4 separate regions of the Homo sapiens genome follow, and regions 1, 3 and 4 are each reported to be linked to region 2. The links are microRNA targets in miRTarBase. Many come from high-throughput screens and were not tested one by one. Region 2 holds a microRNA gene; each other region holds the end of a gene's coding sequence.
What was found. Region 2 holds the annotated microRNA hsa-miR-1233-5p (AGUGGGAGGCCAGGGCACGGCA, at 5,001-5,022, shown strand). A microRNA usually pairs through its seed, bases 2 to 8, with sites in the 3' UTR of a target mRNA and lowers its output. Matches are read on the target gene's strand: a 7mer-m8 pairs with bases 2 to 8, a 7mer-A1 pairs with bases 2 to 7 and ends in A, and an 8mer does both.

Region 1 (7,950 bases), not on the chromosome of region 2:
ACTCTAGCTTGAAGTGCAGGAACTGTACCTGGCAGGCTAAGAGCTGGATTGGCCAGCCCTCTTAGTCCTCGATCCTGCAAATCTGTGTTCCTGTGGTCTCAGCTCCCAAACTGTGGCCTATGGAGGTCAGTACCTCCAATCCCCCTCCACCTCTGCGTGGAAGTCCTTGCCACCTCTTCCAGAAAGCTTTCAGCCTTTTCCTGACAAATGGATACAACAGCTCCCTCATCTGAGCCCTCAGACCTATACTGTGGTATACACTCCCTAGGGAGCAAGGTGGATTTCCTTAGGGTCCTAGCTAGGGTTTTAACCTACTGGGGTGGACAGTGAACATTTGTCAAGTGGAAGGTCAAAAATGAAGGGTCAGCCCACTTCCTTTGTACATAAAACACCTGCACTTGTTAACGGCCCCATAGGCTCTTGGCTGGACTGCAAGTGACTTGCACTGCTTGGCCATAGACACTGGCTCCAGACCACAGAAAAGCCAGTTCAGTCTGAGCCCCTGATGGGAGGATCTCAGCACAAGGGCTGGCACCCAGGATGGTGGTAACGACCTTCATTAGAGACCACCAAAGTCAGGTGAAGCTATGTAAGCCTCTCAGCAGTCTGCCTGAACCCGGTGGTTGGGCACAAGTATAGGTAAGGTCAGGTCCTAGCTGTCACCAGCTGTACACCTTGGGCAGTGACTAGGGTGAACATTTGTCCTTTCTTGGACAACCAGCATCAATTCTTCATCTTAAGAGTGCCCCAAATTTCCTTTGAGAAACCACTCCTGTTTCAGTCTTGTTGTCACTGGCATATGGTAACTGGTTTGGGGATGGCACAGAATCCCATCAAGGCCAATGAAACAGGATGCTTATTGGGGCTTCTGTGGTGAGTCCTCTCCTGAGAGCCCAGAAAGGGTTGCTTCCTTCTGGCTGGCAATGTGTGAGAATGGCAGGTCTGGAATCCAGGCAGCATTCTGCTCACTCCCACACAAAGGGGAAATCTACTTTGTAGGGCCTGTGGATGAAGTCACAACTACACAAGACAGAGCAGAGAGAAATAGGAATGCTGAGGCCAGCCATGTTGGAGCCACTGGATCAAGCCTAACCCAAAGACTGCTCTACATCTGGCATTTTCCAGTTACATGCAATTTCAGTGTTTAAAGCCAGTTTGATTTTGGCTGTCTGACTCTTGCATCCAAGATGATTAACTGATAGAATTATGCCACTTACCTCAAAGACATGCAAATATGATATTTAACTTAAAAGTACAAAGCTTATAGGTGCTGATGGGAGGGGTTTTTACTGTCTGCCCTACGCTCACCATCATCCTGGATGCTAAAGATGTCTGGAGACTCCAATTCTTCCCAATTCGAGGCTCTCTCCAACCGTTTCCCAATCAGACAGGTTCACAACTCCCAAACACATCATTCAGAAGTTTTTAATAAACAACTTCATTATAAAAACCTTTTTTTGAAAATGTAATTCTGTAAAACATTGAAAAATCTACTTTAACAAAGATATGCCCTGTGCATTTTCTAATGGCACTTATACTTTACAATTAAAAACCTTGTTTTATATAAAGCCAAAAATACTCCAAGAGGTTATTCACTGTGTTTACAAAGTGCTAGAAGATTTCTGTCTTGTACTTTTCTCTTTAAATAATCTGGAGTTACAAAAGAGTGGCTCCAAAGCCTTGACCGCTGGTAGGGAGGGAGAAGCATGAGAAGTGGTGTCTCAGGAGTTCTAGTGCCAAAGGTGGAGAGGTGCAAGTGGGAACAATCAGCTAAGGAAGTCAGCTGACACACAAAGAAATCGGACTGGAATTTTTCCAAACCCCTCTATGGAGGCACTAGGTTATCATGGTGAACACCCTTTTCCCTCGCCATAGACCCTACTCTCCAGAGGTGAAGGTCATGGCCAATTCCTTCCACAGCAGGTTCAGAGTTCCAGGAGAGGCCAGGGTGGGATCCCAGAGGAATCTGGACTTTTCTGGCCAACACCTGCCTAAGGCAAAGTTTCTTATTACATAAATATCCTTGTTAAAAAGCAAAATATTGATCCTGTACAATATAACCTGTTAAAAAAATCGTGCTTACAAACAGCTCCTAGATAAGAGGGCAGGTGGAGAGAGGACGGAGAAAACAGCTACCAAAAAGGGAGGGGGGAGTTTAAAGGACTACTAGGGAAAGTTTTAGGGCAGTGGGAGAATTCCAACTTAGGACAATATCTACGAGCAAAAAAGTAATCACACCTGCTTCCCGGATTTTCAATTAAGAAAATGCCATTTGTAAAAGGTTGGGCGGTGGGCTGGAGGGCGGGGGTTGCAGGGAACCTCATTGGCGCTCCTTTCCCTGCCTCCCACCTCAAGATGATGCAGAGATCCTTTGAGCTGACACCTGGGCATGTCATCCCCTTACCCCCAGGACTGTACTCAGCCCTGACCAGCTACTGTGTAGGGTGGGAGGGGGACAGCTCATTGCTGGCAGAGGCTGGAGGTGGCAGGGAAAGGGGACATCACTTTTTTTCCTGGTCCCTCATTGGTCTTTGTCATATGCCATGGCTCCTGTCCTGGGCAGATGCCCCTCAGGTTCTCATGGCCTCAGTAAGCATACTGAAGTGAGTTCGGGTACTGAGTGCAGGATAAAGCTATTCTTATCCTTTGAACAACCAGGCCACTAAGGCTTTTTTTTTCTTTCCCCCCGACCCCCCAGATTTTAGGAAGGGAGGTTTAAGAAATGACTGGCTAGCTATGGTCCAAAAAAAAAAAGGTGAAGGCAGATATTATTCCTCTGTACCAGCAAAGTTCACAGTGATAGGAAAATTCCTTGTGGGTGCTGAGGACACTGAGAGGAGGAAAGGAAAGACAGGATAGATGGGAGGACACAGGAGTGGGGAAGGCAAGGAGAAAAGACAGGAGGTGGGGGCAAGGCCCCGGTTACAAAGGGTTTAAACAGTTGCTTTGCCAGTCCTATGACTTTTCCAGCATCACTTACGGGGAGAGAGAATTCGAGGGAGGGACAGGAAAGGGCAGGCAGAGAGGAAAGGACTCCTCTAACAGCCCGGGACTTTGTATTCTGCAGCCAGAGGCCCAGTGGCCTCTGTAAACTGAGAGTGTAGGGAAGGTGGCAGTTAAGGTGAGAAGGGTTGCTGAGTCTAGTGATGAAAACCAGATACAACAAAGAGGATGGCAACAGCGAGTCCCAACTGGATTCTCACATACCATCACCTATAATACAAGTCCCAATAACATGCACAGCATGCAGGAGGTGGCTGCGTACCAAGGTAGACACTTTTTAAAATAAACCTTAATTAGTCCCTGGGACTCACTGAAACTAATTTTTAGAAGCAAATCATCTAGTCTGATTCTAACCTTGCCAGACATTTTAATATCTGGTGTTTTTAAAAAGGTATCCCAAGCTACCCTGCCTAAATCAAAACACACTTACTCCAAATTGCTTCTAATCAAGAGCTAGGGAGCTAAATTTTAAGGCTTTTACCTCAAACAAGGAGTACTGGCTTAGGCTGAAGCAGAAAGCTGAGTCCTGGACCTGCTCAGTTCCTGATGACAAACCAAGTGAACCTAGACAGAAGGTGGGTGAGGGAGGACTGGTAGGAGGCTGAGGCAATTCCTTGGTAGTTTGTCCTGAAACCCTACTGGAGAAGTCAGCATGAGGCACCTACTGAGAGAAGTGCCCAGAAACTGCTGACTGCATCTGTTAAGAGTTAACAGTAAAGAGGTAGAAGTGTGTTTCTGAATCAGAGTGGAAGCGTCTCAAGGGTCCCACAGTGGAGGTCCCTGAGCTACCTCCCTTCCGTGAGTGGGAAGAGTGAAGCCCATGAAGAACTGAGATGAAGCAAGGATGGGGTTCCTGGGCTCCAGGCAAGGGCTGTGCTCTCTGCAGCAGGGAGCCCCACGAGTCAGAAGAAAAGAACTAATCATTTGTTGCAAGAAACCTTGCCGGATACTAGCGGAAAACTGGAGGCGGGGGTGGGGGCACAGGAAAGTGGAAGTGATTTGATGGAGAGCAGAGAAGCCTATGCACAGTGGCCGAGTCCACTGTAAAGTGGAAGAGACAGAAGGGACATTGTGGATAAGGAAAATTTTGGTTTGGGACACAACAATGTACCCATAGATTAGGACTTAGCTATCTACCCATTCCTAACCTTCTGCAAACTCTTCTTCCAACAATTCCACAACTTCCCGGAAAAGGGACAGGTGGGAGGAAGACCAATGAGGGGCTCAGACTTCCTCCTTTGCTATCCACACCAACCCAGACTCTGCTTCCAAGACTAATAACAACAGCTCATGATGTTCAAGGTGGGGACTAGGGGATGGGGAGGTGACGGACGTGGGCATGCCTTTCATTTCTTCCCCTCTCCAGTTCAAGAGAAGGATGAGGGGGTCATAATGTACTTGGAGAAAAACAGAATTGCAGACCTGTGAGAAAACTGCTCCAATCCTCTTGCCTGTCTTCTGTGGATACCGCCGAGGCAGGCAGGAACAAATGCAGTCATGGAAGATGGCAGAGACTGAAGCAGTCCAAAGTCAGTTTATTTCCCCACGGGGGAAAAATGTGACCTCAAATGAAGAGAAGTCAGCAAGCCCCGACTCCACCTTGTAAACAGGACTCCAGTTAACACCAGGTACCAAATGGTTCAGGCTGGTGCCAACTGGAATGGACTGATGGGAATGGATTCACGGTGTGTAAACAGTGTTCACTGCAATCACTCTAAGGCTAACAGCTTGGCAAGGGAGGTGAAATGGTGTGTCTGAGGTGACTGTGTAAACGGTACCGTTGCTGGACAACACTGACTGAAAACGGAGGTGCTGGTACAGGAGGAATGGGTGGGCGAGAAATAAAGGCCTTCTCTCCTGCCCATTGGTTGGAAGCAGGCAATGGAGCCAAGTGACCTTCTACAGCAGGGCCTGACCAACTGACTGCTGTGGGGTCTGCAGGTTGGGACCAGAAGGTGGGCTTCTTGGGCAATTTCTCTAGAGGTCATCCAAGGTGAAACCCTCTGTGTCTCCAAGAGGCCTCCCCATTCTCCAAAGAGAAGGAGGTTCTGGCGCTTTGGAGAGGAAGAGGGCCAAGTGTGGCTCCCGATTCAGGTCAAAAAAATAAAAGTAAATAATACCTGAAGTCCTACGGTATGAGATCTTTTCACGGGGTTGGGGCTCAAGGCTCCTTCTGGAATCGATCCTAGAGCCTGAACCCCCAAACCAAGTGCTCCTGTATACAGACACTGGAATTTTTTTTTTTGAACCCAGCTCTGAAAGCTCAGCTGCCTTCATGGGGGACACAGACGGGGTGGGTACTAAGGCTCCATAACAGAGCCAAAAACTGAGCTGAGGGCCTCTGTGGGGGCTACTGGAATGCTTGATGGAAACGAGGCAGGGTGGTGCTACTCAGGCCAGACGTGAAGACAGGAGGCAAGGAGTGCAGAGGCCCAAAGTTCAGTGGTCCCCCAGCTCCTGGGGAATCTTGAGGCTGAGCTTGCAAAGTGGTAAGCAGGGGCTGTGCCTCAGCCTGGGAGTAGCCCATGACCAGGCCTCCTGTGGCCCCAGGTGGGTTACACGGGGGCAGGTTGAGTGGAAGAAAGCCCAGTAGGTGGGAGAAGTCCACATTAGCAGCGCAGAGGGCCTCAGAGAGGTTGGCGGGGCTCTTGGCAAGCAGTGCTTCATCTAGGAGGGCCGCAGCTGCCGCCGGCTGAGGTGAGGCGGGCTGGGGTTCAGCGGATGAGAGAGACAGGCTTCCAGGAAGCTCCGCCAGAAAACTATCCACCTCCACTTTGGGCAATTTGTCGGGCAAGTATGAGGTAGATCCAAGCTGGTATTTTGGAGGGAGCTGAGCTGGGGAAGAGATAGGTGAGGATTCCAGAGGGTAGCTCATACCCATGGGCAGCGTGTTGTGCACCAGGGAGTGTGGCACGCCCGTGCTGGGCATGGTAGGGATGTGGGCACCATACATGCCCATGGGCAACATGCCAGGGAAGGCCTTGGTCCCCATTACGTCCCGAGAGGCCATGCACAGCACAGGGCTCAGCTCTTCCTTCACACTGACTGTGGAGCTGCAGCTGAGTAGGCCTAACATGTCCACGGGCTCTGTCTTGATCTTGAGCAGCTCCTGCGAGTGGCTCTTCTTGACATGACGCGTCAGGTGGTCCTTACGGCCAAACCGCTGGGCACAGTACTGGCACAGGAAGTCCTTACGGCCTGTGTGCACCACTAGGTGCCGCCGTACATCCTTACGAGTATAGAACCGCCGGTCGCAGTGGTCACAGGGGTGCTTCTTCTCCTTGGCACCGCCTGCTACCCGGCGTGAGTGGGCCTTCAGGTGCTCTAGCAGGGCCTGGGTACTCTCAAAGGTCTGCAGGCACACCTTGCAGCTGAGGTCACCGCTGCTGGCAGCATGCATGGCCAGGTGGCGCCGGTAGCCCAGCTTCGTATTGTAATTCTTACCGCACTCAGAGCAGTGGAGGGCCTCTTTGTTAGGATCATGGGTCTGCAGATGGTTCCGCAGATGGTCCTTGCGGTGAAACATCTTATCACAGTACATACACTGGTGGGGTTTCTGGGCTGAGTGGGTGGCCATGTGCCTGGGGGTAGAGACAGGGGATAGGGGAGAAAGCAGAAAGAGGGGAGATCACAAGGGATGACTGGACAACCAAAGGTGTCCATTAACAGGAAACTAGATATAAAAACCATGGTAAAGGCTTGCAATGCAATACCAAACCAGTTATATTCTACAGATATCCTTGCCTATCTGCAAAATAATGTGTACCGACATTCTTTGCAGCATTGCTTGTAGTAGCAAAAAAAATCAGAAACAATCTGAACGTCCAATCTATCAATAGGGAACTGGTTACATAAATTATGATAAGTCCATAAAATGACTCAACTTTTCAAAAATGAGGCTTTTTGTGTACTTACAGGGAACATGCTCCTAAGAGACAGGAAGTAGAAAAAAAGCAAGGAGGCAGAATAGTGGATGTAGACTAGGACTCTATGTGAAAAGGGGAAAAATATATGTATGTTTGCTTGTATATGGCTAAAATATTTCTGGAAGGACATACAAGAAACTGATACCAGTGGCTGCCTATGCGAAAAAGAACCGAACAGCTTATAGATGGGTGTCATGGAGAATTTTCATCGTATAAGTTTTGGTACTTTTTGAATTTTGAATTACGTGAAAGTATTTCATTTTTTAAACATTACATTTAAATAATTTTAAATGATACAATAAAGAGAAAATAAAATATACCTAAACGTGCAGTCTGGGCACAGTGGTGCATGCCTGTAATCACAGCACTATGGGAGGGTGAGGCAGGAGGATCATTTGAGCCCAGGAGTTTCAGACCAACCTGAACAACATAGCGAGACCTTGTCTCTACAAAATCTTAACCATTAGATGGGCATGGCAGCATGCACCTGTAGTCCTAGCTACTCAAGAGGCTAAGGCAGGATTACTTGAGCCCAGGAATTTGAAGTTGCAGTGAGCTGTGATCGCACCACTGCACTCCATCCTGGGTGACAGAGCAAGACTCCGTCTCTAAATAAATAAATAAACTTCCTTATCTAGAACAAATTTCCAAGATATACAGGGCTAAGTCAAAAAAGGAAGTTCAATACAGTACATGTGATACAATCTGTTTTGAAAATAAAAAAGAAAGAGAATATACATGTTTGAATGTCTTAGGAAGGATACACAAAAACCAACCCACCAGCTGCCTTTGGGGAGAGGAATAGTGACTTCGAGTGTGAGGATCATTCATTCTTCACTGCATGCCAGTATGTACCACTTGAATTGCTTGTCATATAAACCAGTAACACTTTAAGAAATGTTTTAATGGTATGGCACTTCAGTGTCCCTTGGTTTACCTGATCCTATATGGTTGAAAAGTGGCTCAGAATCCAGGAACTGCAATTCACAGCTCCAGAGCATATTCAGAATCAACTCAGCAC
Region 2 (7,950 bases):
GAGTCACTGCAAGGCCCCCAGGGTGGGATGGTGGGGAGATAAGAACCGTGAGAGAAGTTGGCACAAAGGAGTTATGGGACAAAGGGTCCAAGATAGGCAGAAAAGAAAATGTTGCCAGTTGATGGGGAAGAAAGGAAGTCGGAGGGCTCAGACACTGAGGGGGACAGAACATCTCCATGTGCAGTCTCATCTCTTATAGTCAGCAACAGGTATCCACGGGGAGGGCCCTACATCATCTGCTACCCTGAAGGATCTGGAGGTAGGAGGCTCTGGGTGGAGGTGCAGTGACCCCGCAGGCCAGCCCTCCAACCTCCTCCCGCAGCGGGGACTGGGTGCCCCTCTGCCAGCTGAGACAGCCCACACACAACCCAGCCCTAATGATCGTTCTCTCTACCTCTCCCCCAAGTCCTCCTCCGCCTCCTCCTCTCTGCATGCGCGTCAGAGCCCGTGCCAAGAACAAGCAGCAGTCCTGAACTCGAGGTCCATAAAAATCAGTCGACTGAATGACACCATCAAATCTTTGGTAAGAGTCCAGTGGGGTCCCCTGATTCCACGCTGCCAATCCTGGGCTCCGGTTTCCCCTTGGGGCCCTGAAGAAGGGGGCTGGGGGCCCCTGGTGCCAAGGGCAGATAGGGAGCTGGGGCGCCCAGGCCTCACCTGGCGGGACCCCAGAGCATGCAGCATGGCTCTTCTTTTGCTGCCCTCTTTGCCGACTCTCTCCTCTCCAGGCACCCCTACTCGAGTCCTTGCTACACACGCCCTGGGGTTGTTGCCTCTTGGGGAAGTGCTGGCCTGACTGGTTGTCAGGGGCCCCGTATTTCTGCCATGACTCAGTCCCTAATTTGCTCTTTGATTCTGGACAAGCCACCTCTCCTTTTTGGGCTCGTGTTTCCAGAGGAGGTAGTGAGTATCAAAGGTCTCTGTTAGCTCTGAGAGTCTGAGATTTAAAGGCCCCCTAGAATGGAAAGCTCAGGGCCAAGGGCTCTTGTCTGTTCTTTTCCATCCTATATCGGCTGTGAAGAACCGTCCCTGGCCCGTACGTGCTCAGTAAATGTCTATTGAATGAACACACTTTTCTAAATCACAAGCTGGCAGAAGGGGGAGCCTTTCTCAAACTCCATCTCTAGAGGTTTATGTTACTGTCCTCTCAAGAGATTCCTGATTCAGACTTTGAGTTGTGAGGCTGTGGCTGAAAACCAACAAAGACCCAAATCCTCTGTCCTTGGGAGCTTGGGAACAGTTCCTGTTCCCATTGGGTCTGAGAACTTTGCCTTTAAAATCCATTCCTGGCCCCTGCCTGCCGCTTCCTGTCTGGGGAATAGAGTTGAGGGGGCCACCCTCCATCACTTTAATTTGACTCTCCCCACAGAAACAACAGAAGAAACAAGTGGAACATCAGCTGGAAGAAGTAACGTGATTTCTTTGTTTGCTGGCGACATGACTGCTGGGTTTGGGGGACACTCAGATGTAGAGGCCCCAGTCTCGTCTCACCCACTCCCAGCCTGGGGAAGGAGGCTCACCCCTCAGATTCCACCCCATCCCCACAGGGTCCCTGATAACCGGGTCCCATGGGTGGGCCTGTCCTGGGGCATTGGTGGCATTCTGGGGGCATATCTCTTGCTGTGCCTTCTCTGCCTCCCCCTGGTAAGAGCTCTGTCTTCCTCTTCCTATAGGAAAAGAAAGCAAACAATGAGAAACAGAAAGCTGAAAGGGAGCTAGAGGTGAGTGGAGGGTGTGAAGTTTCCTCCTGTCCTCCGGAGAATGTTTCTTTCCTTCTATTTCAGCACTTGCTTGGCTTTTCTCCCAAAGGGTCAAATCCAGAGATTGAACACAGAGAAAAAGAAACTAAATACGGACCTGTATCACATGAAACATTCTCTCAGATACTTTGAAGGTGGGAATCTGGGCACCCTGTCATCCTTCAACCTGGCACTTTGACAGGTCTGTAAGGCGGAGTCCTTTGAGCCCCATGTCAACTCTGTCATTACAGAAGAGTCCAAGGATCTGGCCGGCCGCCTGCAACGTTCATCGCAGCGTATAGGAGAGTTAGAGTGGTCTCTCTGTGCTGTCGCCGCCACACAGAAGAAGAAGCCGGATGGGGTGAGTCCAGTCACCTGCCCTGTCCCCTGGGAGCCCGGCTTCACAGATGGAGGAGTGAGCCTAAAGGTCCCTTCTGCAGGATGGAGTGTCCTGCCCAGAAGGCAGCATGGCCATTTCTCACTGCTTTTGTGTATGGTTGTTAGAGGCAGCCTGAGGCTGAGTCAGCTGCTGTGGGTGAGTCGGGGGGCGCGGTGGGGAGCGAGCACTGGATGCAGAGCTTGGAGGCCAAGTGCCTGCCCTGCCCTTACCTGGCTGTGGTCTTGGCCAAGTCCTAGGTGGGGTGTGGGGTATTGGGTACTTGTACTGTGAAGGTACAGAAGGGTACCTTTAGTATGTTCCCATTTCTGTAGAGAGAGGAAACGTGTGTGTGTGTGTGTGTGTGTGTACATAGTATGATAATATACATAAAACATGTCTGCAAGTGTTCGTAAACAACTCAGGAGAGAGCAGCAGGGTGGCTGGGAGATACTTCCCTTTGATACCTTCCGAGTTTTGGACTATGTGAATGTATCATCTTTTCAAAAAGTGAACAAAAGATTAATTTTCCCCTTCCTAACCGTGCCCCCACCCCCAGCAGAAAAATGGGCTTAGAGAATCTGATAGACCTGGGTGTTCAAATCCTAGCTCTGCCTAAGTGATCTTAGGCAAGCACTTAACCTCAAACACTCCATGTTTTTTCATCTACCCAAGAGAGGGCATCATAGTAACTGTCTCCTCTGGTGGTTGCGAGGATTAAATGGGATTGCTAGCAAGGTACCTGCTGAAGCACTCCATAAAGGTTCAAACAGTGGGAGTAATAACAATAGCAATATTATCTGATCTCTCTCCTTGTCCCTTCCAACTTCACTGAGTTTTTTTCAAAACCAGACCACGGGCTTGGAAATGCCTTGATCTTTACTGACCGAGTTGTATATTGAGCCTAGCCCTAGCCCTTTTAAGGGGCACTGTGTGGAATGGCCCAGGCTCCCCAGATCGAAACTTCTCACTCTTCACCATCCAGTTCTCGAGCCGCAGTAAAGCACTTCTCAAGCGGCAGTTAGAGCAGTCCATACGGGAGCAGATACTGCTGAAAGGACACGTGACACAGGTGAGGTTTTGCAGAGGGAGGGATGTGGAAGGAAGATGACCCCAGGTGGCCAGGAGCAGGTGAGGACCAGTGACGGCCCTTCCTAACTTGTGTGGCCATTCTTGCAGTTGAAGGAGTCGCTTAAAGAAGTCCAGCTGGAGAGAGATCAATATGCTGAACAAATAAAAGGAGAGAGGGCCCAGTGGCAGCAGAGGATGAGGAAAATGTCGCAGGAGGTGAGATCTGACCCTTCAGCCTCCCGCCCCACCCCCCCCCCACCAACAACTTAAGATAGGTCACTGGATCTTTCTGGGCCTCTTTAAAATGGGAATAGTGCAGCCAGAGGTGGTCCTGGGTCTGGGCTTTGTGGAGGTGGGGGCAGAGAGGGAGATGGGAGCCTGTCCAGCCACCAGCCCCTCTCTCCAGGGCCCTTTCCCCCTGTGCTTTGGGCAGGTTTGCACATTGAAGGAGGAGAAGAAGCATGATACGCATCGGGTAGAGGAGCTGGAGAGGAGCTTGTCCAGACTCAAAAACCAGATGGGTAAGATGGGGCTGGCATGACCTGGGAGCAGGACTGGCATCAGAGGGCTGTGGGGGTGGCTTAGAGTGCCCCAGGGAGGTGGGTGGATGGCAGGGCTTTGAGGCAGAGGGAAAGAGGTCTGTGCCAGGAGACAAGTCTTGTCATCTCCCTGAGCCTCAGTGTCCCCATGAGCAAAGAGGGCCCGTTGTCAGCCACCCGCAGTGCTCTCTATCTGAAAGTGGTTTGGAAGACTGGCTACCATCCGGGTGCGAGGGATCGTTAGCAGTGAAGCCAAGTTTGGGAGCCTGAGAGGAGCTGTGCGCCAACAGGAGGGTGTTTTGTTGTTTTTTCTGTTTTGATTTTTGTTTTGAGAATCCAGAGGCCCTTATGATCTGCTTCCTTTCTCAGCTGAGCCACTGCCCCCGGATGCCCCAGCAGTGTCCTCTGAGGTGGAGCTGCAAGACCTGAGGAAGGAGCTGGAGAGAGTGGCAGGAGAGCTCCAGGCTCAGGTGGAAAACAATCAGTGCATCAGTCTCCTGAACCGTGGGCAAAAGGAGAGGCTTCGCGAGCAGGAGGAGAGGCTTCAGGAGCAGCAGGAGAGGCTTCGGGAACGGGAGAAGAGGCTTCAGCAGCTGGCCGAGCCACAGAGCGACTTGGAGGAGCTGGTGGGTTGCCCCACCTGGGGAGCCTGCCCTCCTCCCTAGCCCTCCAGGCCTTTGTTTCCCCACCTGTAAAATGGGGCAGTGTAGCCCTCACATGAAATATTACTTCCAAAGGCACCTGTGAGCCAGAGCTTTGCTCTGGTGGCTGTGGGAGAGAGGAGAGTATTTTTCTAACTTGGCTCCACCCTTCCCGGTGCCATGGGAGGCAGACACCAAGTTCTGGGGTCTCCAGCTGCAGTGGGTGGCTGCTGATTGCTTCTCTCTGTCCAGAAGCACGAGAACAAGAGCGCACTGCAGTTGGAGCAGCAAGTAAAGGAGCTGCAGGAGAAGCTGGGCCAGGTGATGGAGACGCTCACCTCGGCCGAGAAGGAGCCAGAGGCAGCAGTCCCAGCCTCAGGGACTGGGGGCGAGTCTGTGAGTGGGGAGACCCTCCGGGCCCTGCAGGAAGTCATGGAGAAGCTGGAGGGGAGTGAGTCCTAGCATGGGCCAAGAAGGGCAGGGCTGGGGCAGGTCGCTGCTGAGATGTGACCCCATTATTTTGGCTCCAGAGCGGCCTTATGGACCTCCTGGAGGAGAAGGCGGACCTGAGGGAGCATGTGGAGAAACTGGAACTTGGATTCATCCAGTACCGGAGAGAGAGATGCCATCAGTGAGTGGGAGGCCAGGGCACGGCAGGGGGAGCTGCAGGGCTATGGGAGGGGCCCCAGCGTCTGAGCCCTGTCCTCCCGCAGGAAAGTACATCGCCTTCTAACAGAGCCAGGGGACAGTGCCAAAGATGCGTCACCGGGAGGAGGCCATCATCAGGCTGGCCCAGGACAAGGAGGAGAGGAAGGTAGGGTGTGCAACATCCCTGTGGGGGTGGGGGTGGGGTGGGGGTGTGGGTGGGGTGGGCATGAGGGTGGGCGCCAGCAGCGGCCTGACAGCTGAGCACCCGTCCCTTCAGGTGAAGCTGCTGGAGCTGCAGGAGATGGTGTTGCGGCTTGTGGCAGCTACAGCGAGGGGCACGGCAAATTCCTGGCCGCTGCCCGGAACCCTGCTGCTGAACCCAGTCCAGGAGCCCCAGCCCCCCAGGAGCTCGGGGCTGCCGACAAGCATGGTGGTGAGTAGAGCCCCCAGGCGGGGTGAGCAGGCAGGAGCGGGGGGCGGCTAGCACTCCACTCAGATCCCCGCCTCTCTCTCTCCAAAGATCTTTGTGAGGCGAGCCTCACCAACAGCGTGGAGCCTGCACAAGGAGAAGCCAGGGAGGGTTCTTCCCAGGACAACCCTACTGCACAGCCAGTCCTGCAGCTCCTTGGTGAGATGCAGGACCACCAGGAGCACCCAGGCTTGGGCAGCAACTGCTGTGTGCCATGCTTTTGCTGGGCTTGGCTGCCGAGAAGAAGGAGATAAACACCACCATCATCAAAGAGCTGCTCAAGAAATTTTTAAAAACGAAACAAAGTTATGGGGTTAATCTCCTACACAATTCATTTACTTCATTTGAATGTTAGAGCTACTCATGATTATTTGTGTTTCTAATTTATAGTTTAAGTTTATTTGTAAAAAGTTAAAAGAGAGTGGGTCTCTGTGCCTCTCACTGATGTTCACTCTGGCATCCTTTAGCATTTTTCTTTTTTCATTTCATAATTGTAGGTCATTAGCATGCATATCGAGTTTGCCCTTACGTGGTGGGAGTTCAAACACACAAAGACCCACTCTTTGCACAAAACTGTTCTCGCTGGTTTGGAATAGGCTCCCGTGCTTTTTTAATGTTATTGCAGCATGGATGTTCATTACAGAATTCAGATAAAATTTGCTAATGTTCTGCTATGATGTTTGATCTCATCTTAATCACAGTGAGCTCTTCCATAGCTCAATATGCGGTTTGCCCTCAAGTGTGCACTGTTTATTACTTTGTAATATGCCACTATGAGTACTGACACTTAGAGCTGTTTAAAGGCCGAGAACTGGAAACAGCCTTTCCTCCATTTTCTGTGTATTGGTGATGGGAGTGATAACCTTTTGGGGGAGCTTTCTAAATCTCGCAGAAGAGGAAAGTGGCCTGCTCTGGCAGGTATGTGCAGGATACAGTGTGTTTCATCTGTTCCGGTGCCAAGAATGAGCACTGTACTGTGGCAGTTCCCTTTGGATTTGTATGTGCTCTGGGCTCATGAAGATATTGCATCGTGAGCTGCAGCAGTTGCACTCTTTTTCAGTGACCTAAAAATGGCTTATTTCCGAGGAATGAAAGGCTGCCATCGTTGGCTGTGGATGTGGAAAACCTTTCCTAGCTTAGAGCATTTGTATCTACAATACATTTTAAAGTCAGAGTTCGTGTTCCCTGTTTTAATCACATGACTACCTGTCCCAGTACACGAAAGGGCGCTGGTTGGCATTCTTCTTAATGTATTTAGTAAAGATCATAAGACATCCTTTAAGAGTTTAAATGTCTCTGAAACAGGCATACAGGCTCTAGTCAAGAATGAATTAGAGTGAAGGAAAGCTGTGTGACACCTGGCATTCCTCTCTGTTCATGGAGCTTCTTTGAGGCTTGAAGTTTGATTTTACTATCTAGACCTCTCTGGCTAATACCTATTCTTCAACCACCTCGGTTACTCTGACATAGGAATTTACTTCTTTTCCTTGAGTGGAAAACACTTTAGAAAATAATAACAAACATTATTATAAACTAATATATGTGAGAGTACTTAGTTGAAACAAAAAGGAATTTTAGTAGACAGTATTATATTATCTTTGAAAATCAAGGAGAAGTTTATGCAACTGAAAATGTTTACACACTGTGCTGCAATCTACTGTTTGTGAATGTCAATGTATTATCAGGAAACATGTCTATACGATCGCAGAGTTGTATTTCCTCACAAACTTCTTTACGAAGAGTGAAATATGTTTTTGTACCTCTCAGTTTCAGTCAGGGACATATTTTGTGCAATATTTCTGTGATTGTGCCTATGCGTGATGAGTGAATGCATTTCAATCATACATTGCCTAAATCATAACTTGATGATGCTTGGGAAAGAATCAACAGTTAAAACTTCATGAAGTTCTAATGTCTGTGTTCCAAAACACATCACATTATTAGGTTGTAGGGAGATATGTATGTGTGCTCCCTGGGGTGGGGAGTTTTCTAGTTACTAGACCATCTCCATTTTTAGCACTTGGCAGCCTCATGATCCTTTTATAAATAGGAGATTAACAGGAGAGCAGCAATACGATTTTGCCAATGGAATAACAGATTTGCCGGCATTCACTGAAAGAGGGCAGATATTGGGTCCTTGTGACTTCAACTGACTCTTCCGAATTGTATGAATTTATCAATGTATTAGATAAACCCAGTTTCAGAATAATAAAGAAAAAATATTAGACCAAATAATGTGGCTAATAGTGGTATGATTTCTAGCCCGTGGGTTTAAAACTGTATCCTAAAGAGTCATTTTAAAATAATATAAATATTTAAAAGTGTAACTGCTATCTTTATGTTCTGAAATAAGTTAAAACATTTTAAAATATGAATACTGTAGTTTAAAAGAAAGAAATGGTGGGAAGGAAAAGTAGAGAAAGAAATGCCAATTCCAGTCCAAAGCTTTGTTTGCCAAGTTTTCTTA
Region 3 (7,950 bases), not on the chromosome of region 2:
TCATGCTAGTTTCACTCGGAAATATGATCCTTCATATATTGAGTTTGGTTTTGTAGCTGTAATTGATGGTGAAGTACTAAAACCACAGTGTATTATTTGTGGAGATGTACTGGCTAATGAAGCAATGAAACCATCAAAACTTAAGCGACATTTATATTCAAAACATAAAGAAATAAGTTCACAACCAAAAGAATTCTTTGAAAGAAAGAGTAGTGAATTGAAAAGCCAACCAAAGCAGGTGTTCAACGTTTCTCATATAAACATTAGTGCTTTGCGGGCTTCATATAAAGTAGCACTTCCGGTTGCCAAGTCTAAAACACCATACACAATTGCTGAGACACTAGTGAAAGACTGCATCAAAGAAGTTTGCTTGGAAATGTTGGGTGAATCTGCAGCAAAGAAGGTAGCTCAGGTACCACTTTCCAATGACACCATAGCTCGACGTATTCAGGAACTGGCTAATGATATGGAAGATCAACTCATAGAACAAATAAAACTAGCAAAGTATTTTTCATTGCAACTTGATGAATGCAGAGATATTGCTAACATGATAATTCTTTTAGTCTATGTGAGGTTTGAACATGATGATGATATAAAGGAAGAGTTCTTTTTTTCAGCCTCTTTGCCTACAAACACAACTAGCTCAGAACTGTATGAAGCTGTAAAGAATTATATTGTTAACAAATGTGGTTTGGAATTTAAATTTTGTGTAGGAGTATGTTCTGATGGTGCAGCTTCAATGACAGGAAAACATTCTGAAGTGGTAACCCAGATTAAGGAACTTGCGCCAGAATGTAAAACAACACATTGCTTCATTCATCGAGAAAGTCTTGCCATGAAAAAAATATCAGCTGAACTAAATAGTGTACTTAATGATATAGTAAAAATTGTGAATTATATAAAATCTAATTCATTGAATTCAAGATTATTCTCTTTATTATGTGATAATATGGAAGCTGATCATAAGCAACTGTTACTGCATGCTGAGATACGGTGGTTATCACGGGGAAAAGTTCTGTCAAGAATGTTTGAAATACGAAATGAACTCTTAGTGTTTCTGCAAGGCAAGAAACCCATGTGGTCCCAACTTTTTAAAGATGTGAATTGGACAGCCAGACTTGCTTATTTGTCTGATATCTTCAGTATTTTTAATGATCTTAATGCTTCTATGCAAGGGAAGAATGCAACTTATTTTTCAATGGCAGATAAAGTTGAAGGACAAAAACAGAAGTTAGAAGCTTGGAAAAACAGAATTTCTACAGATTGTTATGACATGTTTCATAATTTAACAACAATTATCAATGAAGTAGGTAATGATCTTGATATTGCACATCTGCGAAAAGTTATCAGTGAACATCTTACAAATTTGTTAGAATGTTTTGAATTTTATTTTCCATCAAAAGAAGATCCACGCATAGGAAATTTGTGGATCCAAAATCCATTTCTTTCATCAAAAGATAACTTAAATTTAACTGTAACTCTACAGGATAAGTTGTTGAAGCTGGCTACCGACGAAGGATTGAAAATCAGTTTTGAAAATACAGCATCACTTCCTTCATTTTGGATAAAAGCTAAAAATGACTATCCTGAGCTTGCTGAGATTGCTTTAAAATTGCTGCTTCTTTTCCCCTCAACATACCTCTGTGAGACCGGATTCTCTACTTTAAGTGTTATTAAAACAAAACATAGAAACAGTTTAAATATACATTATCCCCTGAGGGTAGCATTGTCATCAATCCAACCTAGATTAGACAAATTAACAAGCAAGAAGCAAGCTCACTTATCACATTAAAAGCTTTAAATATTGATATGTAAGGTATTGGTTCAAAGTATGCATATAAGCATTGAGTGTGAGGAATTTGCTATTTCACTTTAAACTTTCTGTCTAGTTACAGTTATGGAAGTATGAGAAGTTATGAGTGAAACAGCAATTTTCTATATAAATTGCCTATATGTATATTTTCAATTAAGAATGTGTACAGTTTTTATAATTCTATTTTTCCTCATATTTGTCGTATTTATTAAAATATAATTTTAAATCTGTTGATTCTAATATTAAAACATTTGATCTTATATTTTGTGTCTTCTTCTTGTATTTCATTAGCATGTTAAGATTGTAGGACAACTTCAGGATGGGAGATGGTTTCTTTGAAATAGACAAGGTCAGTGAAAGGAAGTGAATTCAAAGGGGTAGGCTTAGAATTCAAATGCAGGGGACAGGTCAGTAGGGTATGAAGTTTGTTAAACTGATCCAGAGTGGTTAGGTTGGAAGTTGATGTTGTTTGTTTTGTAGGTGCATGTTTAGACAAAGATGGAAGGGAACACTTATTTTGTAATGGTGTTATGGCCTTGGATTCATATTGATAAATTTATTTACTTATTTATTTTTGAGGCAGGGTCTTGCTCTGTTGCCCAGGCTGGAGTGCATTGGTGCAATCTCTGCTCACTGCAACCTGTACCTCCTGGGTTCAAGTGATTCTCTTGCCTCAGTCTTCCGAGTAACTGAGATTACAGGCACCCACCACCATGCCTGGCTAATTTTTGTATTTATAGTAGAGATGGGGTTTCACCATGTTGGCCAGGCTCATCTTGAACTCCTGACATCAGATGACCCTCCCACCTCGGCCTCTCAAAGTGCTGGGATTACAGGCGTGACCTGCTGCGCCCGGCCGATAAATTCTGATTTCATAAGGATGGGCGATTGGGCCATACTGACAAGTTTATGTTAGGTGGTTTCTAGATTTTGCTAGAACTGATTGCCTTTAAGGTGCTCTGGGACAAAGTCAGAAATTATTGGCACCTCAATTAGATTTAACAACCTCTATTTTGTTTGGAGATGATTCAGAAAAATGCCACAAATATCTGCTCTTGTGTCTGTGAACTCATTTAGAATAATCGAAAGCAAATTAGTCCGATAAAACAGGTTCTTTAGCATCAAAACATGACAGAATCCATGAAGAAAATATCTTTTCCTAGACAGGGTAGCAATTTACAGTAAGTGCTTCGTTTCAAATAAATGTGATATTCAAAGTTAAGGAAAGGAAGGCTATTTAGTGATTCAGAATGTTACTAATAATTTAACCTTTTGGTAATGGAAGTTTCAAGGATCCTCCAAACCTTTGAAAGTAGAGGAAAGGTTCATATTTAGTCCTGAAACCTTAATTGGATTATGTTTTATTGTGTGTTTGTTTTAATCTTACAGCTTTTCAAAAACAAAAAACCTTATCATGGTGGATAGATTTAGAAGACAGTGGTTTAATTTCTCCCACTGACAAATTATATGCCCTCTTTCTTATCTGACCATATTCTAGAACTAAGGGATTTTAAAATGTTTTACAGTTTGTTTTATTGATTGAATAAAGTATTGTGTTTCCCATTTTTAATTTCAAAAGGCAATGTGGTGATTTTATATTTATTTCTATAAAAACTTAAAGTAGTCTGGAAGAAATTAAGAGGGAATTAAGAGTACATATTAAAAGAGAACTAAATTCCCTTACTTTCTCTCTAAGAAATATAAAGTATTAGATGTTTGAGATTGGTACAAAGCCTTCACTTTCTCTCTAAGAAATATAAAGTATTGGATGTCTGAGATTGGTACAAAGCCTTCTCATATACTTGAACAACTATTTTTATTTTTTTCTGCAAATGATTCAGTGCCAGGAGGCTAACTTGCTTTACCTTTTTTTTAAGACATAGGAATATTTGTCTTTCCTCCCTTACCTCCCTGTTTTATTGTCTCACTGTAAATTTTTTTAGGGCAACAGCTTTATTGAGATTTTTATTGAGATCATGAAATCTTACTGCCTATTCTTAACGTGAATTTGATGACTAGTGATTCTGTAGATAACCTGATTTTCTCTTCCTATTTTCTGCTTGTTTTGCAGCAAGTTCACATGTCTATAAACGTGGTATATGAATACAATGCAAAGGTATCTTTATTTGTGTATACTTACAACTACTGTATGCAGTACTGTTTATTTCCATCTATCATGTATATATGTGCTGGTTTTAAAAAATTGTATTTATGTATAACAGGAGGTTGTGTTGGGCTTTTCCTATTACTCAAAGAACAGCAACTAGGGAGGAGTCAAAGATGGGTCAAGGGAACGCTAAGTACTTCACTTTTTAAAGAAATCTGACAATGACTAGAATCAGAAAACCCCACCACCCACTGCCTCCATGCACACACCCAGACCTAACTTGAAGGATGATTAAGAAGTCGTAGAACTAGCTCCCAAAATTGTGCTTTCTGCCAAAGGAATCACTGGTAGTGATTGAAGATGCCTTCAGGAAGGAAAGACTTGTATTTTATTTCCAGATTGGGTGTTAATTTAGGCAGCAAACTTGTTCATCTGCTTTCTGCCTACTTTATCAGGAAAATAAAAGGGAAGGTGGGGTGGGGAGGGGAGGCGATTAGACTTGCAGTAGTTCAGTCTGTAGTCTCACAATTTGGGGTGGCAAAGATACGCAAGTTTCCTGTGGGTCAGGTGACACCAAGGAATGTAATTAATTCTGACCTCTCGGCTAGTGTCACATTCAGGAAAACTGTCCTTCAGCCTGGAGAACTCTCCAACAAAGCCTGTGGGCATTTATAGCTATGGACAGATGAAGGAGGTAAAAGCCATTATCTATCTATTTATATATTTGTGGGTAAGGCCCCCACAAATATCTTGGAGAATTCTCACATGGTCCCCATGAAAGAATGAGAAAGCTTGAATTCTGGGGCTTAGAGGGCAAATTACAAATTTACCCTTGGTACCCGTATGTGTGCGCGCGTGCACATATTTTGAAGTCTTTGGTCTAGCCCTGGTTTGAGGAAGCAGGATACAAGAGGGAATTGCAGCTAAGGGGCCTGATGGCCTTTGCAACCTTATACCCAGATTCCTCTATATTACCCCAGCCACCTGGATGAAAGACCACTTCTCCTTCAGCTCTGCTGGTGAGAAACTTGAGAAAGAACCAAAGTGAGGGGAAACCCAGGGTGGGGCTTTTATGGCAGAGAAAGGAGGGTAGAGATTACTTGAGTGATCTCAGTGGTGCAGTCAAACTCTGGGCTTTTGGAGTTTGGCTGTTCTGGTTTGGCTGGCTGCTTAGATATTTCAAAGACAAAAGAATCTTGAGTCAGGTTCTAAAAGGATCCCTGTTAGAAAGTGTCCCTTCTCTGATATATGGCTGTGTACTTTCTGCAGTGAATCTCTCCTGAATAACTCCCAGAATGTCTTTGCCAGTGTTCACCAAGATAGAAAGATTGTGAAAGTTTCAAACATTATACAATTAGAAATTATTATGATAAAGAATAAGACATTTATTTACTGGTTCAAAGAACATACTGTGTGCTTTGTATTCTGACATATGTGTGTTAAATTGAATTTATGATCAATTTGTTATGATTGAGAGAGTAATAGGAGTTATAGTTGTTTTAATAATCAAACCTTCGGCTCATTAAAATTATATAAAGGTGAAAAGCCTGAGGTTGTTATGGATTGCATGACTTCTTTTTTTTTCTTTTTTTTTTTTTTGAGATGGAATCTCACTCTGTTGCCCAGGCTGGAGTGCAATGGCATGTTCTCGGCTCACTGCAACCTCCATCTCCCGGGTTCAAGTGATTCTCTTGCCTCAGCCTCTAGAGTAGCTGGGACTACAGGCATGCGCCACCAAACAGGCTAATTTTTGTATTTTTAGTAAAGACAGGGCTTCACCATGTTGGCCAGGTTGGTCTCGAACTCCTGACCTGGTGATCTGCCCGCCTCAGCCTCCCAAAGTGTTGGGGTTACAGGCGTGAGCCACCATGCCCGGCTGGATTGCATGACTTTTAAGAGTTTATGCTGAAATAATGATGTGCTTTATTTTAGGATTTAAATGCAAATGAATTTGTGGCTGAAATCTCTTTGGGAGAGCAAATTTTTCAAATTGCCATTTTCTTCTTCCACTTGAAAGCAGAAAAACCTTCTTTCAGTTGATTTGAGGAACCAAAACTGAACTCAGAGTGACAGGAGCACAAAGAAATGCAAGATGATGTAGGTTGGAAAAAGATGGCCAGAACAGAAGCTGGTTCATAAAGATGAACCAAGTTGAGGAGTTTAGCCATAATCTTGGGGGCACTGGGAAGTCAATAAAAGATTGATAAGTAGAAGATGACTTGAGTTACATTTTAGCAAAGCTTTTCCAGGTACAATGTAAAAAATAGATTGGAATGCTGAAGGACAGCAGGACACTAGGAAGAATTTTGTAATGGAATAGATTTATGATAATGGTGTGAACTGAATAAATGGGAGTAGGGATTCAAGAAAGTGGATGTAAGGGAGGAGACCACCCCTCATATTGTCCTATGCCCAATTTCTGCCTCCAAAGAAAGAAGTAAAAACTAAAAGGCAGAAATGAAATCCACAAGCAGACAGCCCAGTGCCACGCCCTGGGCCTGGTAGTTAAAGATCAACCCCTGACCTAATCGGTTATGCTATCTATAGATTACAGAAATTGCATAGAAAAGCACTGTGAAAATCCCTGTGCTGTTCTGTTCTGTTCTAATTACCGGTGCAGGCAGCCCCCAGTCACGTACCCTCTGCTTGCTCAATCGATCATGACCCTCTCACACGCACCCCCTTAGAGCTGTGAGCCCTTGAAAGGGACAGGAATTCCTCACTCCGGGAGCTTGGTGGTTGGAGATGTGAGTCTTGCTGAAGCTCCCAGCCGAATAAAGCCTTTCCTTCTACAACTCGGTGTCTGAGGGGTTTTGTCTGCAGCTTGTCCTGCTACAGACATATCTGAAAGGCTCCATATTATAAAGGTGCCAGTTAGCAATTGTATTGAAAATACCAGTAGAGGCCAAGTGAAGTAGCTCACACCTGTAATCCCAGCACTTTGAGAGGCTGAGGCAGGAGGATCACTTGTGCCCAGGAGTTTGAGACTAGAGTGAGATATGATTGTGTCACTGTACTCCAGCTTGGGCTACAGAGCAAGATCCTGTCTATCCCTCAAATTTTTTAAATTAAAAATATTTTAAAGATAAAATAAATATGTAGTAGGATGGGTCGCAGACAAAACCTCTCAGACACCGGATTTAGGAAGTAAGAGGCTTTATTCGGCCGGAAGCATCAGCAGACTTGCGTCTCAAGAACAGAACTCCCTGAAGAAAAAGTTCCTGGCCTTTTTAAGGGCTTACAACTTTAAGGGGTCCACGTGAAAGGGTCATGATTGATTATGCAAGCGTGGGCTACCTGACTGAGGGCTATATGCATCAGTGGTGAGGGCTAGCAGAACAGAACAGAAAGTTTCACAATGCTTCTCCATACAATGTCTGGAATCGACCAGAGCTTAACCGCACATGCGGTTAGGGTGGGGGTTAATCTTTTACATTCAGGCCTGGTCAGTGGCGTCAGTCAGTCTGGCCACTGACCCTACTTCTGTTATTTTTCAGCTTTTACTTCCTCCTTTGCAACTCTACCACAGGAGGCAGAGGGAAAATCCAAGGAAAATGCTCTCTTTCCTCAAATACACCAATAGAGGTTTCATACTATGCTACAACTGTGTCTAGAATAAGAGCAAAAGTCAATACTTGCTTAGAGACATTTAAAAACAAAAACAGGAGAAAATTTGCATTATCAGATAACAAAACTTATTATAAAGCTATAGTGCTTAAGACATGATATTAAGACAGCAATTGATAAACCATTAGAACAGAATAGGGAATCCAGAAACAATCTTGTGGGTATAAGGAAACTTGGTATATAACAGAAGTTTGCTCCTCAGTGAGGAAGAGAAAAAATTGATGGTCCATTTAGAAGAAAATGAAATTGGATCCCTGCATTCTAAATATTTTAGACTTAAATGTGAAAGTCAAAGCTATAAAACTTTTTGAAGAGAAAGTGGGAGAATGCGTTTTTGAACCTGAAGAAGGAAATAGTTTCTTATGATGCAAAAACACAAACTATAAAAAAGAAATCTAGCTGT
Region 4 (7,950 bases), not on the chromosome of region 2:
CAATCTTTGACAAACCTGACAAAAATAAGCAATGGGGAAAGGATTCCCTACTTAATAAATGGTGTTGGGAAAACTGGCAGCATGGAATACTATGCAGCCATAAAAAAGGATGAGTTCCTGTCCTTTGCAGGGACATGGATGAAGCTGGAAACCATCATTCTCAGCAGACTAACACAAGAACAGAAAACTAAACACCGCATGTTCTCACTCATAAGTGGGAGTTGAACAATGAGAACACATGGACACAGGGAGGGGAACATCACACACCAGTGGGGGGCTAGGGGAGGGATACCATTAGGAGAAATATCTAATGTAGATCACGGGTTGATGGGCGCAGCACACCACCATGGCACGTGTATACCTATGTAACAAACCTGCACATTCTGTACATGTACCCCAGAACTTAAATTAAAAAAAAAAAGATATTCGTCAAATCAGTAGTTAATGGGGACTGATGTCAATGTATAGCTTTACCTCCAACTAAGAGGAGGTTGTGAAGATACAGGAAAATAGTAATGAGAGACATAAAGATACTTGCTATGTGGCAATAAAAACTGTACTTTTATTAAAAAGTAAAATCTACTGTGGAATAATTTTAGATTTACAGAAAAGTCAAAAGGATATAGAGTTCCTTTACTCTCTTCAGCCAGGTACCTCTAACGTAGTATAGCCATGGTACATTGGTCAAAACCAAAAAATTAACAATGATGTGGTACTATTAACTAGACTTAGAGTTCTGCAGATTCTCAGTAATGCCCTTTTTCTATGAAGGATGCAATCGGAGATATCACATTAAGTTCAGTCATCATGCCTCCTTAGCCTCCTCTGCTCTGTGATAATTATTCAGTCTCTTTCTGTGACAGTGACACTTTAAAAAATCCTCTCAGAAATTTTGTGGAATGTCCCTGAATTTGCGTTTGATGTTTTGTCATAATTAGACTATGTGTTTTTAAGAAAATCAGGGAGCTTTGAGATGTACACTTCTCAAAGTATCATATCAGATAATACATGTTATATCAACATGACTTTTCACTGGTGATGTTAACCTTGATTACTTGGTTAAAGTAGTGCTTGCCAGATTTCAACAATGTAAAGTTATTTTCTTCTCTGTCTGTACTCTATTCCTTGAAAGCAAGTCATTAAGTCTAACTCATCCTTCCAGGGGAGGAGAACTAAGCTCATGCATCAGAGGGCATAGTAGCTACCAATATTATTTGGGATTCTTCTATAGGAAAGATGTGCTCCTTCTCCCCCATTTATTTTTCAACCATTTTATTTATATTAGTATGGATTCATGGATATTTACTTTATTCTTTGTGCTGTAATCTAATGCTATCATCACTTATTTAGTTGCTCAAATTATTCCAGTTTTGGCTACTGGCAGCTAAGTGATTTTATATAAATCACTGAATCCTCCAGCAATCCAGTGAGGCAGGTACTGTTAGCCTTAGTTTACAGAAAAGGCATCTTAGGCTAAGAGAAAGTAAGAAACCTTCTCAATGACATCTTATTTGTGGCAAAGCCAGGATTTATACCTAGTAGTCTGACTCCAGAGTCTGTGTGTTTAGTTTGGCTATGCTATGCTGCTCTCTCAGGGAAAGAATTGCTTCACAAATGTCAATCAGAGGTAAGGCATTGAATCACTTCTTCTTAGACAGTATGTACAGAAAGAGCCACAAATGGTCAAAACTAAGCCTGCTGCCAGGTGGGAGGAGGAAAGAGTGGTTAACAAAGGAAAGAAAAGGGATAATAGGAGCTTACAGGACAACTAATGTCATGGAAGGGAAGAAAAAAGTTCATTGAAAGTGTAATCAGTTTGGTTGCAGGGCCATAGAAAATGAGCCTATGGTAAGAAGTTTAGTGAACCGCAACACTGCAATATAATGGAAGGATGGAAAACAAAACCAGATCTCAGGAGATCAAAACTGTTGTTACAAAGGAAGAAGGTAAAGAAGTAATTTAATAGAGAAGAAAGTGCAGGTTCAAGTAATTTTTTTCCAGGATGGAGGAGGACCTATTCACAGGAAATCCTACAGAGAAGGAGAGCCTCTCAGAAAGCAGGTGTCGAAGCTGTGTGCATGAGAACGAGAGAGGACGGGGGCTAACCCTGGAGTTCAGGAAACTCTCCTCCTCACATACTGGAGGTAAGTCCAAGGATAGAGGAATTGCTGAGGTGAAGGTACAAACTTAGGATGATATCCTTGATTTTATTAGTAAAAACGGAAGCAAGGTCATCTGCAGACAGTGAAAGAAATGAGAGATGTCATCCAGCCCTGTCAGTGGCCAACATCCCTGGGTCGGTGTTTGGTAGAGCTGGTGAAATTGGACAAGCTAGAGTCATTCATGGTGACAGAAATCACCTAAGCGCAAGCAGAGATGCACTCAGGTTATCAGGATTTTTACTTGATTTTTTTCAGATCAAATAGTTAAAACTAAATATTTTATGTAATTCTTAAAGACTCAGGATTAGTCTAAAATGTTCAGAATTAAGTATGATGCTAACTTATGATATGCTAGTTGAGAAAAATGCCTAATTGTAAAGAACAAATATAAAACTAATAGAAAAATAACTGTCACAAGAATGAAAACATTTTCTCAGGAATTCTTCTTCAATCAATTCTAATTGCAGGGTTTTCCATGAATGTTCAACAGTTATGAATTTAAGGCCAAAGGCTTCTGTATCATTTATACTTATTAAACAGAAATACTAAGTTTGGGCAATGGTTTTTCTAAACTAAGCACAAAATACAGCTAACAAGGGTTATTTCGAATTTCTTCAGAAATATTCTTAAAATATTAAAATAGGATTTTGGATTTTAATCTAAGACACACTACTACACTGATAACACAGGGCTTTAAAAAAGTTCATTTCAGAAGCATTTTAATTTATGAAGCTACTGAGAGTGTTTTTTATATCCAGATAAAGGTCAGACATTGGGGGGCAAAATTGTATAAGAAGTTTATGAATTACTGACTTAACATATCCCTAAGTATTGTAGATTGCCCTCATCTAACATAGTTATAATACTACAGAATAAATAATTTCCTTTACGTGGACCAGAAAGAATTTACATTAAAACATATTATTCATATTTGTTATTTTATTATATATTATTGTATACAACTTTGATAATGAGGATATTATAAATCATACTTTAAGCAAAAATCTATGCATGATATATGTAAGCAGTAACATTTTGAAGAAAAAAGCCATGAAAGCATTTACCTAAAATTTAGTAACATCGAAAAACACTAGTTTGTGCATAGTAATGTTGAAAGCTTCATAATACACTAGAATACTGGTAAGTCTTCAGGTATTGTAAGAAAAACCTGGTACAGGAAAAGACTAAATTAGACACATCCATATCCTTAGATGTGCACATCATCTAGAAATAAATCCCACAATGTAGCAGTGCACTAAGTATCCTTTGTTTGGCACTTAACAATACAGACAAACGTGTATTTGGTTTAACGTGATTTTATTATTCTTAGATACATTTTAGTTATTTTATATAGATAAAAATATACAATATTGCTTTTCAAACTTTTAATTTTATAACTGTATAACTGATTGTCATCATATTCATGATTAAAAAGCCTATTTTCCACTAAACAATTTATCCAGTAACATGTGGAAGAGAGTAACAAAAATGGTTTATGTAAGACTTATAATAAAAGGTTTAAATGTAAAAATAGAGTATTAATCTAGACCTCTGGTCTAAATCCTTAGATACCTCATGCTGGAAACAAATTATGAAATGTTTCAGACAAATTTTTTCCAACACTTAAATTGATTCTACAGGTTTAAAGTTTTGACTGAAAATACACAGAACTCAGAGATATTTTGTCCGAAGCCATTTTTATATACATTAACTTACTAAAAAAAGTAAAAGAAATAAAAATTGTATTTTTTTTTTTTTTGGAGACGGAGTCTCGGTCTATTGCCAGGCTGGAGTGCAGTGGGGCGATCTTGGCTCTGCAACCTCCGATTCCCAGGTTCAGGCTATTCTCCTGCCTCAGCCTCCTGAGTAGCTAGGACTACAGGCTCACGCCACCATGCCCAGCTAATTTCTGTATTTTTAGTAGAGACAGGGTTTCACCATGTTGGTCAGGATGGTCTCCATCTCTTGACCTCGTGATCCACCCTCCTCGCCCTCCCCAAGTGCTGGGATTACAGGCGTGAGCCACTGCACCCGGCCAAAAATTGTATTTTAATACATCTCAGTTTGGGATTCCATCAGATTTTCAAATAATACATGCAAAATGTGTCTAAGCTCTTCAGCTCTCATATCTAAAGAAAAGAAGAGCTGAATGCAGTGGCTCACGCCTGTAATCCCAGCACTTTGGGAGGCCAAGGTGGGAGGCTCACCTGAGGTCAGGAGTTTGAGACCAGTCTGGCCAACATGGTGAAACCCGTTTCTACTAAAAATACAAAAATTAGCTGGGCATGGTGGCACATGCCTGTAATCCCAGCAACTCGGGAGGCTGAGGCAAGAGAATCACTTGAACCCAGGAGGTAGAGGTTGCAGTGAGCCAAGATTGTGCCACTGCACTCCAGTTTGGGCGGCAGAGTAAGACTCTCTCTCAAAAAAAAAAAAAAAAAAGAATAAAAGATGGTGTCATTTTTTCTTTTAAACCATGTTAGGACAGTAAAGTTGGTAGGGTGATTAATTTGCCTATTGGTAATGAAGATCAGTATATCATTAAAAAAACCTAAAGTTTGAAGGTAAACGAACTATGTGGTTGTCTTTTTATTAATACCAACTTTAAGCAGTTGGATTCATTACTTGATTTCTTAGAAAGACACATTGATAAAGTATGTAAAGCCCCAACAAATTAAGTGCATATATAAGGTATGGACTTTTTAAAATGAAAAACTGCAAATATCTTACAAATAATTTTGTTCATTATATCTATACAATGCACCATTCAATTCACTCATTACAATACTTTGCACCAAACCTTGCTATCTGCAATCTTAACACTCCTCAAATATGAGAAAAACACATAGTTTCCACTGTTCTAAGAAGCGAAATTTATAAAGTCAACACAATATATTATCAAGGATTATAGGTCTAAAACAGTTTTTAAAGACAATTTATACACATTGAAATGGGTGCTTTGCTTAATTAAAAAGCTAGAAATAAAGCTTCTTGCAATTTAATAAACAAGGTTGCAGTTAACAGCAGATTTTTCACATTGCAACATTCAACTATCATCATGGAGATATCAATAAAGGTAAAGAGTGGTATATTTATTTCTTCTGAAAACACTGTTGAGGAATTTAAGTGCTATTGTCTTAATATTTTTATAATAATTAAGAAATAATTTGGAAAGACATTTTACTTTTAAATTTTTTCAACATAAGGCACATAGCAACATTTATAGTCTAGAAACAACTAAATTATGTAATAAATAATTATTTTTTCGATCATTATTTGCCCTTTACCTGAAGAAAGTAGGTAAGCAGTGGAGTTAAAATATGCCTGAATTAATGAAAATGGTTGGATTTAGGAAACACAAATAATATTTGTGTGCAGAAAGATATTAATTTAAAAAAGAAAAAGAATACTTTATATAAAATATACATCCTAGAGTGTTATAGGTAGAAAAAAATGTGAGGCACTTAGATGAAACAGTGAAGGAGGAAAGCACTGAGATTATCTTTTTATAAAAAGCACCAAACCATTTATTTTAACATCTGAGATAAAAGCAGAGGTTAACATGATAGGAAAAACTAGTTTAGTTCTCTAACTTTGTATTTGGGGAACTAATAAGAATCCAGTAGCTCAAAACTCAAAGTATTTTATTTTTACTGTGACAGAAATAATTCAAATAGAGAATATTTTCTAATTTAAAAGAATCTTAGTTTCCCTGATAAAGTTTTGTATATTTTGTGGTGCCCAGAATAATGTGAAATGTAGACGGTACCTCACCACTCCGTGGCAGCACCCTTTCTATCTTGACTGTAGTATATGTAATTTTGATACCATTTTTAAACTCCCTTTTCTAAAAGCAAAAATTAAAATTTGGTTTGGAATAATTGTGAATAGCATGCATCAATGCCTCCATGTGAACTTGCTGACGTCCAACAGTGACAGTTTTATTTTTCCATAATCCTTCACAAACTAATTTAATCCAAAAACCAGGGTCAAAATTGGGCTTGGAATTACAGGAATCCACTGGATGTCAAATCAGGAAAAGGTCTGGCTTCTGACGGATGATGAAGTGGCTGAAGATGTGTGGTAGTCTGAGTGTTATTTATGTTATTTAATTCAGCTGGATATGTTTCATTTAAAACTCCATTCTGAAACTGAAAACAAAAATGGTGATGCAACTTATTGGAATAGATCTTCCAAGTATCTTAAGCCAGTAAATAACATTAACATGTATTTTTAAAATCTTACCCCTGAGAGTTGTAAACTTCAAGTTCCTTTACTGTTGCTAAATTTTAAATCTTTCACACAGTGAAGACATACTGAGGACATATTATGTATTAGTTGCATTTATAACCTGTTTTTCCATTAATTTGACAGGAAATTTTGAACATGGTACAGATGAGTGATGCAGCTGTCTCATTTCAGATTGCCTTTGGGTCAGGTAGGAATTGATGGGTCAAACAGCACAAGTCACAAATTACAGTTAAATATTCTCTATCATAAGTAGGTTTGCTTTGACCAGGTTTGAAGTTATAGGTATCAATGAATTGATTATATTCAGGAATCTTACACTGGAATGCAAAACTTTTCCAAAAAAGGCAGCTTCTGATTTTCTAAATGTTTCTAAATATTCCTAAAATATTACACCACAGGTATGATTTTCTTAACCGATTTCTTATTCATAATATACTTTTAATTAATGAATACTACTGAAAGCATAGTTCTAATTACAGAATCAAGTTACCAAAAGAAAATGCTCTGTCTTGTTTTCTTACACTGCAATGAATCTGGTTTCTATAACTGCTAGTAGAAAAAAGAAAAATAAAAAGGAAGGACATGAAGATGTATAGCTCTGTAGAGTTTTATAGATTACAGAGCCTTTATATTTTAGTTAGTGGACGTTCTGGAAACTTTAAAACAGATTAAAATCATATCCTTAATTGCTTCAAATAAAATCTACCTTTGTAAAGCCTACATAACTGGCTTCAGTAATCAAAATGTTAATTACTTCACAGATCCTCCAAAACATATATAAAATCTATAGTAAAAATCATATAACCTGTATCTTCAATGAATGGCAACACTGTAAATTCTTTAAATAAAAAGTTAGTATTACCTGGCCAGATAATGGTGAGTTTAAAATGATTTTTTCTCATTACTCATAACACAATTCATGTCACCATTCTCTTTAAACATACTGTACACAGCAGTGTAATCCAATAGAAATATAATGTGAGCCACATACAGAACTTAAATTTTTGGCTACAGTAGATTAAATAAAATACATTTCTAAAGTTAATTTTACCTGTTTCTTTTTACTTTTGTAATGCGGCTACTGAAAAAACTAATCATTTCAACATGAAATCAATAATAAAAGATGAGATATTTTACATTCTTTTTTCAAGCCAAGTCTTCAAAATCCAAAAATCCAATGTGTACTTCACACAGCACATCTCAATTTGGACTAGCCACATTTCAAGTGCTGAACAGCTACTCAGTGGCTCAATATTGAGTGTCTTAGCTCAATAACATGTACTCTGGAACATATGTAGGTCTATAGAATTATTTGGTTATTTACAAAGAAGCAGTGAAAAGTAGTGAGGGGAAAACACTGCAAAGAACTTATGTGGTACTCATGCAACTCCTTATTCAAAATGTAATTTTACAGAATTAACTTCTGTACAATTTGCTTTACTCAAGAGTAAAATATACTTTCATAGCAATTTTGTGAGACGGACTATAACTGAATATTATTCAATTTTAATATAATTGAAGGATGTAAGGAATAAGA

Region 1: the mRNA of PLAGL2 is a reported target of hsa-miR-1233-5p. Seed matches in the 3' UTR shown: 7mer-m8 at 4,204-4,210, 7mer-m8 at 2,445-2,451 and 7mer-m8 at 2,187-2,193.
Region 3: the mRNA of SCAND3 is a reported target of hsa-miR-1233-5p. Seed matches in the 3' UTR shown: 7mer-m8 at 2,614-2,620.
Region 4: miRTarBase lists AHR as a target of hsa-miR-1233-5p. Seed matches in the 3' UTR shown: 7mer-m8 at 4,357-4,363.

What each region holds. Positions count from the first base shown.
Region 1 is chr20:32,191,099-32,199,048 of GRCh38, forward strand. It overlaps PLAGL2 (PLAG1 like zinc finger 2), which reads right to left. Exons shown (of 3, transcript NM_002657.3): 3 at 1,406-6,584. The coding sequence ends at 5,354. Among named protein-coding and RNA genes, the nearest start is that of PLAGL2, 13 kb to the right of the region's middle. RefSeq lists a silencer at 224-421 and an enhancer at 5,205-5,967.
Region 2 is chr15:34,525,419-34,533,368 of GRCh38, reverse strand. It overlaps MIR1233-2 (microRNA 1233-2), which reads left to right and starts at 4,998; the gene lies at 4,998-5,079. It overlaps GOLGA8B (golgin A8 family member B), which reads left to right. Exons shown (of 24, transcript NM_001023567.5): 11 at 407-523; 12 at 1,370-1,408; 13 at 1,674-1,721; 14 at 1,810-1,894; 15 at 1,991-2,100; 16 at 3,101-3,187; 17 at 3,295-3,402; 18 at 3,620-3,707; 19 at 4,095-4,351; 20 at 4,619-4,762; 21 at 4,897-4,997; 22 at 5,080-5,180; 23 at 5,292-5,447; 24 at 5,535-7,950. The coding sequence ends at 5,737.
Region 3 is chr6:28,565,753-28,573,702 of GRCh38, reverse strand. It overlaps SCAND3 (SCAN domain containing 3), which reads left to right. Exons shown (of 4, transcript NM_052923.2): 4 at 1-3,168. The coding sequence ends at 1,792. Among named protein-coding and RNA genes, the nearest start is that of SCAND3, 18 kb to the left of the region's middle.
Region 4 is chr7:17,341,284-17,349,233 of GRCh38, reverse strand. AHR (aryl hydrocarbon receptor) reads right to left here. Exons shown (of 11, transcript NM_001621.5): 11 at 3,087-6,313. The coding sequence ends at 6,170. Among named protein-coding and RNA genes, the nearest start is that of LINC02888, 30 kb to the left of the region's middle.